Linked DNA regions of Homo sapiens. The protein of the gene in region 1 interacts with the protein of each later gene in a pairwise test. Each region holds a gene or a part of one and is shown in the gene's direction. Other genes may lie near its edges.

Region 1 (3,828 bases):
GTGATGGTGAGCATTTTTTCATGTGTTTTTTGGCTGCATAAATGTCTTCTTTTGAGAAGTGTCTGTTCATGATTTTTTTTTTAGACAAAGTATTAGATCAGATATTTTTGGGGAAAAATGCTTTGTGATTGCTTGTTTTGAATGGTGAGCATTGTATTTTGTTTTAAGTTGTTTTCTGGTTGTTATTACAGCTATGAAGTCTTACACTCCATATTTCATTCTCCTGTGGAGTGCTGTTGGGATAGCGAAGGCTGCCAAAATCATCATCGTGCCGCCAATTATGTTTGAAAGCCATATGTACATTTTCAAGACGCTAGCCTCAGCCTTGCACGAGAGAGGCCACCATACAGTGTTCCTCCTCTCTGAAGGCAGAGACATCGCCCCATCTAATCATTACAGCCTCCAGCGCTACCCAGGGATCTTTAACAGTACCACCTCAGATGCTTTCCTACAGTCCAAGATGCGGAATATTTTCTCTGGGAGATTGACAGCAATCGAACTGTTTGACATACTGGATCACTATACTAAGAACTGTGACCTGATGGTTGGCAACCATGCCCTGATCCAGGGTCTGAAGAAAGAAAAATTTGACCTGCTGCTGGTGGACCCTAATGATATGTGTGGATTTGTGATAGCTCATCTTTTAGGGGTTAAATATGCTGTATTTTCAACTGGCCTTTGGTATCCTGCTGAAGTGGGTGCTCCTGCTCCATTAGCATACGTCCCAGAGTTTAACTCACTCCTCACAGACCGCATGAACTTGCTGCAAAGGATGAAAAATACCGGTGTTTACCTCATTTCCAGATTAGGGGTCAGCTTTCTGGTTCTTCCCAAATATGAAAGGATAATGCAGAAGTACAACCTGCTGCCAGAGAAGTCCATGTATGATTTGGTTCATGGGTCCAGCCTGTGGATGCTGTGTACTGACGTAGCACTGGAATTCCCAAGACCCACTCTGCCTAATGTTGTTTATGTAGGAGGAATCCTAACCAAACCAGCCAGCCCACTACCAGAAGTAAGGTTTGCCGAATTCCTTGGTAATTCTTTTTTAATGTAAAAGTCAATTTTGATTTTTGGAAGAGATATGATTTGTTATTTATATATATTGTATATATACAGTACACTAAAAGGTGATTAGGACATGGGGCCTCCAAAGTCCCTTTATGTGGGTCCACCACTTCCCTGGGAAACATTCCTGCTTTGAATGAGCATTTCTGTAATACTGAAAAGACCACTATGCCATATGGTCAATAGACTGCCTGGGAAGTAGTTTTCTGATTAAGTAATAGTTATAGTATGTGAGGAGAATATAGTTAAATGGTTAATTTTAATGAGTATAAGTGATTTTATCTTTAATTACACACAGAATCCCCTCTGTTCTGCCCCAAATAGCACAATTAACAGGTATATATGTTTAGCTTCAGGTCAGTGAACAGAGGTTCTTCTCTGGGAGGTTATTACCACTAGTTTATGTCCAATAATGAAAGTGAGGTGGTAACTTCCATCAAAGTAGGGAGTTGGTTAATTTAAGCTAGTAAGTAAATGTAATGGTTTTAAGGAAAGCATGCTCTATTGCAATTTCATTTCAATGATGGAATCAATGGCACTTTAAGAAACTCTGTTCTCTATGTGAAACTTAAATTCTTTTTATTGATTGAGCCAACAGTAAATCCCTTGGTATTCTGTTCACCATCCTTGTTTTTTATTAGGTATCCCACATTAGCAGAAGCCATACACATACCTATTGTTGTAGTGAGTTTTCTAACCTCAGATTGAATCTCTCAATTTAACCTCAACATCAGATCCCATTTACTAGGAAGTGTAGGGCTTGTTGCAGGACTTTATTCAAGTTACTTTTAATCCTACCTCTGGAAATAGCCACTCAAAACAATTTTGCTAAATTGTTGATTTCTAGTTCTGGTACTACATATTAAAAATTCTATCAGGGCCTTGATGAAGAGTAAATCCAGATTTTCTCGTATAGATGAGGACAATCACATGGCTGAATTTTGTCGTGAGGCAATAAGGTGATTAGAAATATACGACCTGTAGGCTTTTCTAATATGGCCATTAGAGTTATAATTAATAAATAATATATCGATATATTTCATATAACATGGAAACAGAAATGGCCTGTACACCCACAGCATTTCAAATATATACAGCCACTGGAGGCCATGAGGGCACACTTGTTCTCTCTGACGTCAACTGTAAAGGATAGGGATTAATCTCAGCTTATCTTAGCCATTCTTGAATTTATCCAAGCTCATTTTGAATCCTCAGATCTTCTCTGGCAGAGTCACCTTCCTAAAGGTAGCTAAAATCAGATTTTAGAAGTAGCTTCTAAAAGATTTGGTAATCAAGGTGTGTCTTTACCTTAACTGAGTCATTTAAAATGTTACACAAATCATCCTTGTTCTCTCTAGGTCATCATCTTTTCCGAGCTAGAACACTCCCCTTCTGCCAGCTCCCTTTGGTTTTCATCTGGGTGATGTCTCTCTTCTTCAGTCACTTGATTGAAGAAGAAGTATATGATGAAAAGGAGCTGGACGCGGTGTCCCATGCCTGTAATCCCAGCACTTTGGGAGGCCAAGGCAGGAGGATCACTTGAGTCCAGGAGTTCGAGACCAGCCTGGACAACATAGTGAAACCTTGTCTCTACAAAAAATAAAAATTAGCTGGGTATGGTGATGCATGTCTATAGTCCCAGCTACTCAGGAGGCTGAGGTGGGAGGATCACTTGAGTTCAGGAGGTCGAGGCCGCAGTGAGCTGAGATCACACCACTACACTCCAGCCTAGGTGTCAGAGTGAGACCCTGTCTAAAAAAAAAAAAAAAAAAAAAAAAAGGAATGTCCTGTCCTGATTGCCTTTTCTTTCCTTCCAGTTCCTGCTGTATATTTGTCTTGAGTTGCAGCAACTTGAATGACACAGTATAAGTGTAGGAAAATATTTTATGTTTTATTTTCAATACTCTACCTTTCAAAAAGATGCATAGCATGTGATAATTTTTTTTCTACCATCCAAGCATTTTTTTCTGTCATGGATTCCTCTGCACACAGATGTCCTTACTAGTGTCACTATTTTGTTTTACATGAAAAACATCTTTTTAGTGGTTTTTGGTGCTCGACATAAGGTATTACTCAAAATATCCTTTAATTTGCCATAATTTCTCATTTGACACTGGCTTGACTTTCTTTGTGGAGTTCTTTTTCCTCTGGGCTATTTGTAGTGGTTCTTTTGAAATGCGTTTTTTGTTTACAAAGTTTGCTTTGTGCCAGTTAGTTTGGTTGCATGCACAGACATGGCATGTGTGCATGTGTTATATATAGTATGTGGACATAGATAAGTATATTATTATTATTGGAAGTCTATTAGATTATCATTGTGAAGGGCTGTTTTCATTTCAGAATGTTATTTATAGTTTTTGAGCAGGGAGTATTTTGAAGAATGATGTGCAGTACTCTTTCAGGTATTCCTTATTCTGGTGTGGTTTTATATGCTTATGAACACATGTTCCCACTGAGATTTTTCTAGTAGATTTATTTGAGATAATAAACTGTACCTTTTCATTCTAAAAGTTAATGAGTTTCTCAAATGCCTGTATTATTTACAGGGCATTGTTGTGACAGTAACACAGGAAGGCCCAGAAAGTAGCTGCGTAGAACACATGATTCACATATAGCAGCTTAATTGTTAATTGCCCTGGTATCTTACACTGGGCATAGATTAGGTTTTCCAGATGTCTGTAAATGATTTTACAGTGGGACTGAATTTCACAACCTGGGATGAAAGGGCAGAGAAAATTTATAAAGGACATTTTAAATAAG
Region 2 (3,828 bases), on another chromosome or scaffold:
TAGCAAACTGACAAATCAGCTTTCCAACACGTGATGATTGGAAAATGCTATTAGTTTCCTTCAAAATTCTCCTAATGTTTCTTTTTCAAAATTGCCTAAGATCATTGGATTATGTGGTTTGTGTTTCTTTTCACTGTAGCTGCTTGTTAAAGCAGTATACTCAATCTCTGATAAGCAACAGTAAATTTGATCGATTTGTATCCTAAATTTAGCTATCACTTTACATTTTGTTTTATTCATAATATGAACTTTAGCTTCTAAAAATCAACTTTTTAATAGCTTAATATATAAAGCCATCTTAAATCAAGGAATATCTATAGGGACTTAAGGTAATATTCAACTAAATTGGCAAGTGACTACCATTATCCTATTAAAGCTCTAAAATGCAATATTTCAATCACAGAAAAAAAATCTTATAATTTAAAGAACTATAAATTGCCAGATGTTTCCCTAGTTATTACGTTAGTGACAAATTAGACAACTGGAAATAGAAAACAGAGTATATGTTTGGAACAGTCATAAAAGGACTAGTGACTATTGCTGCTAGCTGTGGTTGTATTAACATTAAAATATTTGCTATGGGATTTTTCTTCTTATCAAAGCAGATGCTCAGATGAGGAAAAACTTTCTTGCATATGAAAATCAAAATTGTCTTCCAAAATATTTAAGTAACAAAAAATTCATTATGTAGTATAAATGCTGTATGATTACATTATTCTTATAGTTAATTTAGAAGGGTTTGAATTTGTTTTTGTTTTGTTTGTGTTTGTTTCTTCGATAGGTGCATTCTCTAACTGTCTTAAGTAGAAACAAATGTCTAGAATCTCTCAGTGATTATCAGTCTCCTTCCTATTACCAAGAATGTTTTTATTGTGTTGTTAATCTCACATGTAATTTTTTTAACATTTAAAAGTTTGGAAAATGGGTAAAAAATGAGTGTGCCTTGTTTCCTATTATTACAATGTGCCTTCCTATTTCAAGTCCCAATTCTAGATTTCCTTAAAACTTAAAATCATAGAATTAATAATCTTTCAGTTTAAGTCAACTTTTGTGTGATTTCTTGTCCACTTATACACACATAGATGCCTTCATCTTCACCAAATAATGTAGAAATTTTATTTAGTTCAATGGATTTAAGTACTCTGTATGCTTAAGTACAAAATAAGAATATTGAGAAATACACATATGATTGTGTACCTTTTTTTTTTTTTTTTTTGAGACAGAGTCTTGCTCTGTTGCCCAGGCTGGCGTGCAGTGGCATGATCTCGGCTCACTGCAACCTCTGCCTCCCAGGTTCAAATGATTTTCCTGCCTCAGCCTCCTTAGTAGCTGGGATTACAGGTGCATGCCGCCACGCCCAGCTAATTTTTGTATTTTTAGTAGAGAAGAGGTTCGCCATGTTGGCCAGGCTGGTCTCAAACTTCTGACCTCAAGTGATCTCCCTGCCTCGGCCTCCCAAAGTGCTGGGATTACAGACATGAGCCACCTCACCTGGCCTGATTTTGTACTTTTAAAGAGAATTTGTTGTTGCTAATTTGCTAAGTTTATTTAGATATTTTCTGATTCTATATTAGTCAAAGCTCCTCTTATCTACTTTGGAAAATGAAGAATTATGTCTATAAAATATATCAACAACAGCTGCAGGTACTTACAGAGGAAATACTGTGGATCTGAGTGATATTAGGCCCTGAGGATACAAGCCAAAGTATAAAAATGGTCTTTGCCGTAGAGAGATAGTAGTCAAGCTAAGCACATATTTTGGCATGGGTCTCTAATAGCCTAATGCTAGTAGGGTGGGAAGCCATTTAAAAATGGCCCCTCCTTCTGTCCTGCCTTTCAGACCAGATGGTGTGTCTAAAGTGGTCACACTGTTTGGTTCTGGCCACTTCTGTAATAACCACTGCTCCTTTCCCCTCCTCGTGAGATTATAACTCCTTTGACAGTATGGATGGCACCTAACGCATCCTTGTTTTCTTTTACTAAATGTTCCACGGAGTCACTTGCTTGCCTGTTTGTTGCTTATTTGTTTGTTTTTGGCTAAAACTACAGAAAATGTTAAATACATTTTCAGACCTTTATATTTTAAAAAAGAAATGTTAAGAAATAAATAATTTTTCTAATCTCATTTAGATACACTGTCCTATTACACACAATGACAAATTTGATGCTTTTGTCTTGCTAATTGAAGAGCTAAGCATGAATACAGTTTTTCAGTCTACAGCAGCAATGACAAGGGTAAAGTGGAGAAAAGAGTAAGGAAAGAAAAAATTAAAAAGAATAAAAGGTTGAAATATCAAATCGGTGGTTCTTAAGATGACAGAGGCAGGTGAGACAAGAATACTGGAATCACCCAGGGGGCATATGAAATCTGTACATTTCATCCACACCTTCTTTTCTCCCCCTGTCCTCATTCCCCCTGTTGAGACACATTGTATTACAAATTAGGAGGAAACCATCTAAAATTATCTCACGTATCCCAGTTCCCATATTAGCATCATGAGTATCACCTGAGAGTTTGTTGGAACTGCAGAATCTCAGACCCTGTCCAGACCCATTGATTGCATAAGAATCTGCATTTTAGCAAAATCCTCAGGTGATTCAAATGCACATTAAGGGAAAAGAAACACAGTGTACCGTACCTGTGGCTTGTTTAGAATAATTATGAAGAGGTGTTTTCTTGGCTCTTAACTAACGTTTTTAATAAAGCTAATATTTATTGAGTACATAAATGTGCCAAACACAACGTTCAGTCTTTCTTTAAATTTTTTTTATTTAATCCTCACAACAACCCTGTGAGATAGTTTCTGTTTTATCCTTATTTTATAGATTGGGATACCAAGTAATAATGAGATAAGTAGTTTACCCAAAAGCTGTAACTGATACAGTCGAGATGTAAACATAAGAATTCTAATTTCATTGCCTGTTCTCTTAGCTGTTACCTACAGTGTCTGCTCTATACTGGGCTACCTACTTTTTAAGGCCAACTAATTATTTGAAAATTTATTTAAAGTTTTAATTTGAGATCAAAATCTGTTTCCCTCATAAATTTTTTTTAAAAAAAGCAAACAAGATCTATTCCATTTTGATCTAATGTTTTCCTGTCACCTTACCTTTAAGTGCAATAATGGGAAATTCTAGAAATTCCTTCTTTAACTGTTTGAAAAAATACCAAAACTATGACAGCCTGTCCAAATCCACTAAAATATATTTTTATATGCATGCTTTTTGTATATCAATTATACTTCAATAAAGCTTTTTAAAAAAATAGTAGATGACATACTTTTAAAAATTAACTTTGGAGCCCAGGTATGGTGGCTCAGACCTGTAATCCCAGCACTTTGGGAGGATCACTTGAGGCCAGGAGTTTGAGACCAGCTGAGGCAACAAACTGAGACCCCCATCTCTACAAAAAATAAAAAATTGCCAGAGCATGGTGGCGCACACCATGTAGTAGTTGGGACCTGTAGTCCCAACTACTCAGGAGACTGAGTTGGGAGGATTGCTTGAGTCTGGGAGGTGAAGGCTGCAGTGAGCCATGATCACACCACTGCACTCCAGCCTGAGCAACAGAGAAAGACCCTGTCTCGAATAATAATAATAATAATAACAACTTTTGATATCTCTATTTTTTCCCATAAAAATCCAAAATTTTCTGTTTACTTTTTGGTGCTCTCATGCTATAAAGTAAATTCTCCCTTGGATTGGACAAGTTATTTTCTGTTTTCTACATACACATAGACTGTTCAGCATTCCAACTCAAATTACATATTACTTTTTCAGCTTTTAATATAAATGCTTATTTACTACAAGCATGGTTTACAAAAATGT

What was found.
Region 2: the proteins of UGT8 (region 1) and AGTR1 interact in a two-hybrid assay, tested with the Homo sapiens proteins (one large-scale study listed by BioGRID and IntAct).

Annotation. Positions count from the first base shown.
Region 1 is NC_000004.12:114,622,688-114,626,515, forward strand, and holds part of UGT8 (2-hydroxyacylsphingosine 1-beta-galactosyltransferase precursor), read left to right. Parts: exon of another isoform or gene 1-191; 5' UTR 192-193; coding exon 194-1,015; intron 1,016-3,828. UniProt on the Homo sapiens protein: Catalyzes the transfer of galactose to ceramide, a key enzymatic step in the biosynthesis of galactocerebrosides, which are abundant sphingolipids of the myelin membrane of the central nervous system and peripheral nervous system.
Region 2 is NC_000003.12:148,700,780-148,704,607, forward strand, and holds part of AGTR1 (type-1 angiotensin II receptor), read left to right. Parts: intron 1-3,828. UniProt on the Homo sapiens protein: Receptor for angiotensin II, a vasoconstricting peptide, which acts as a key regulator of blood pressure and sodium retention by the kidney.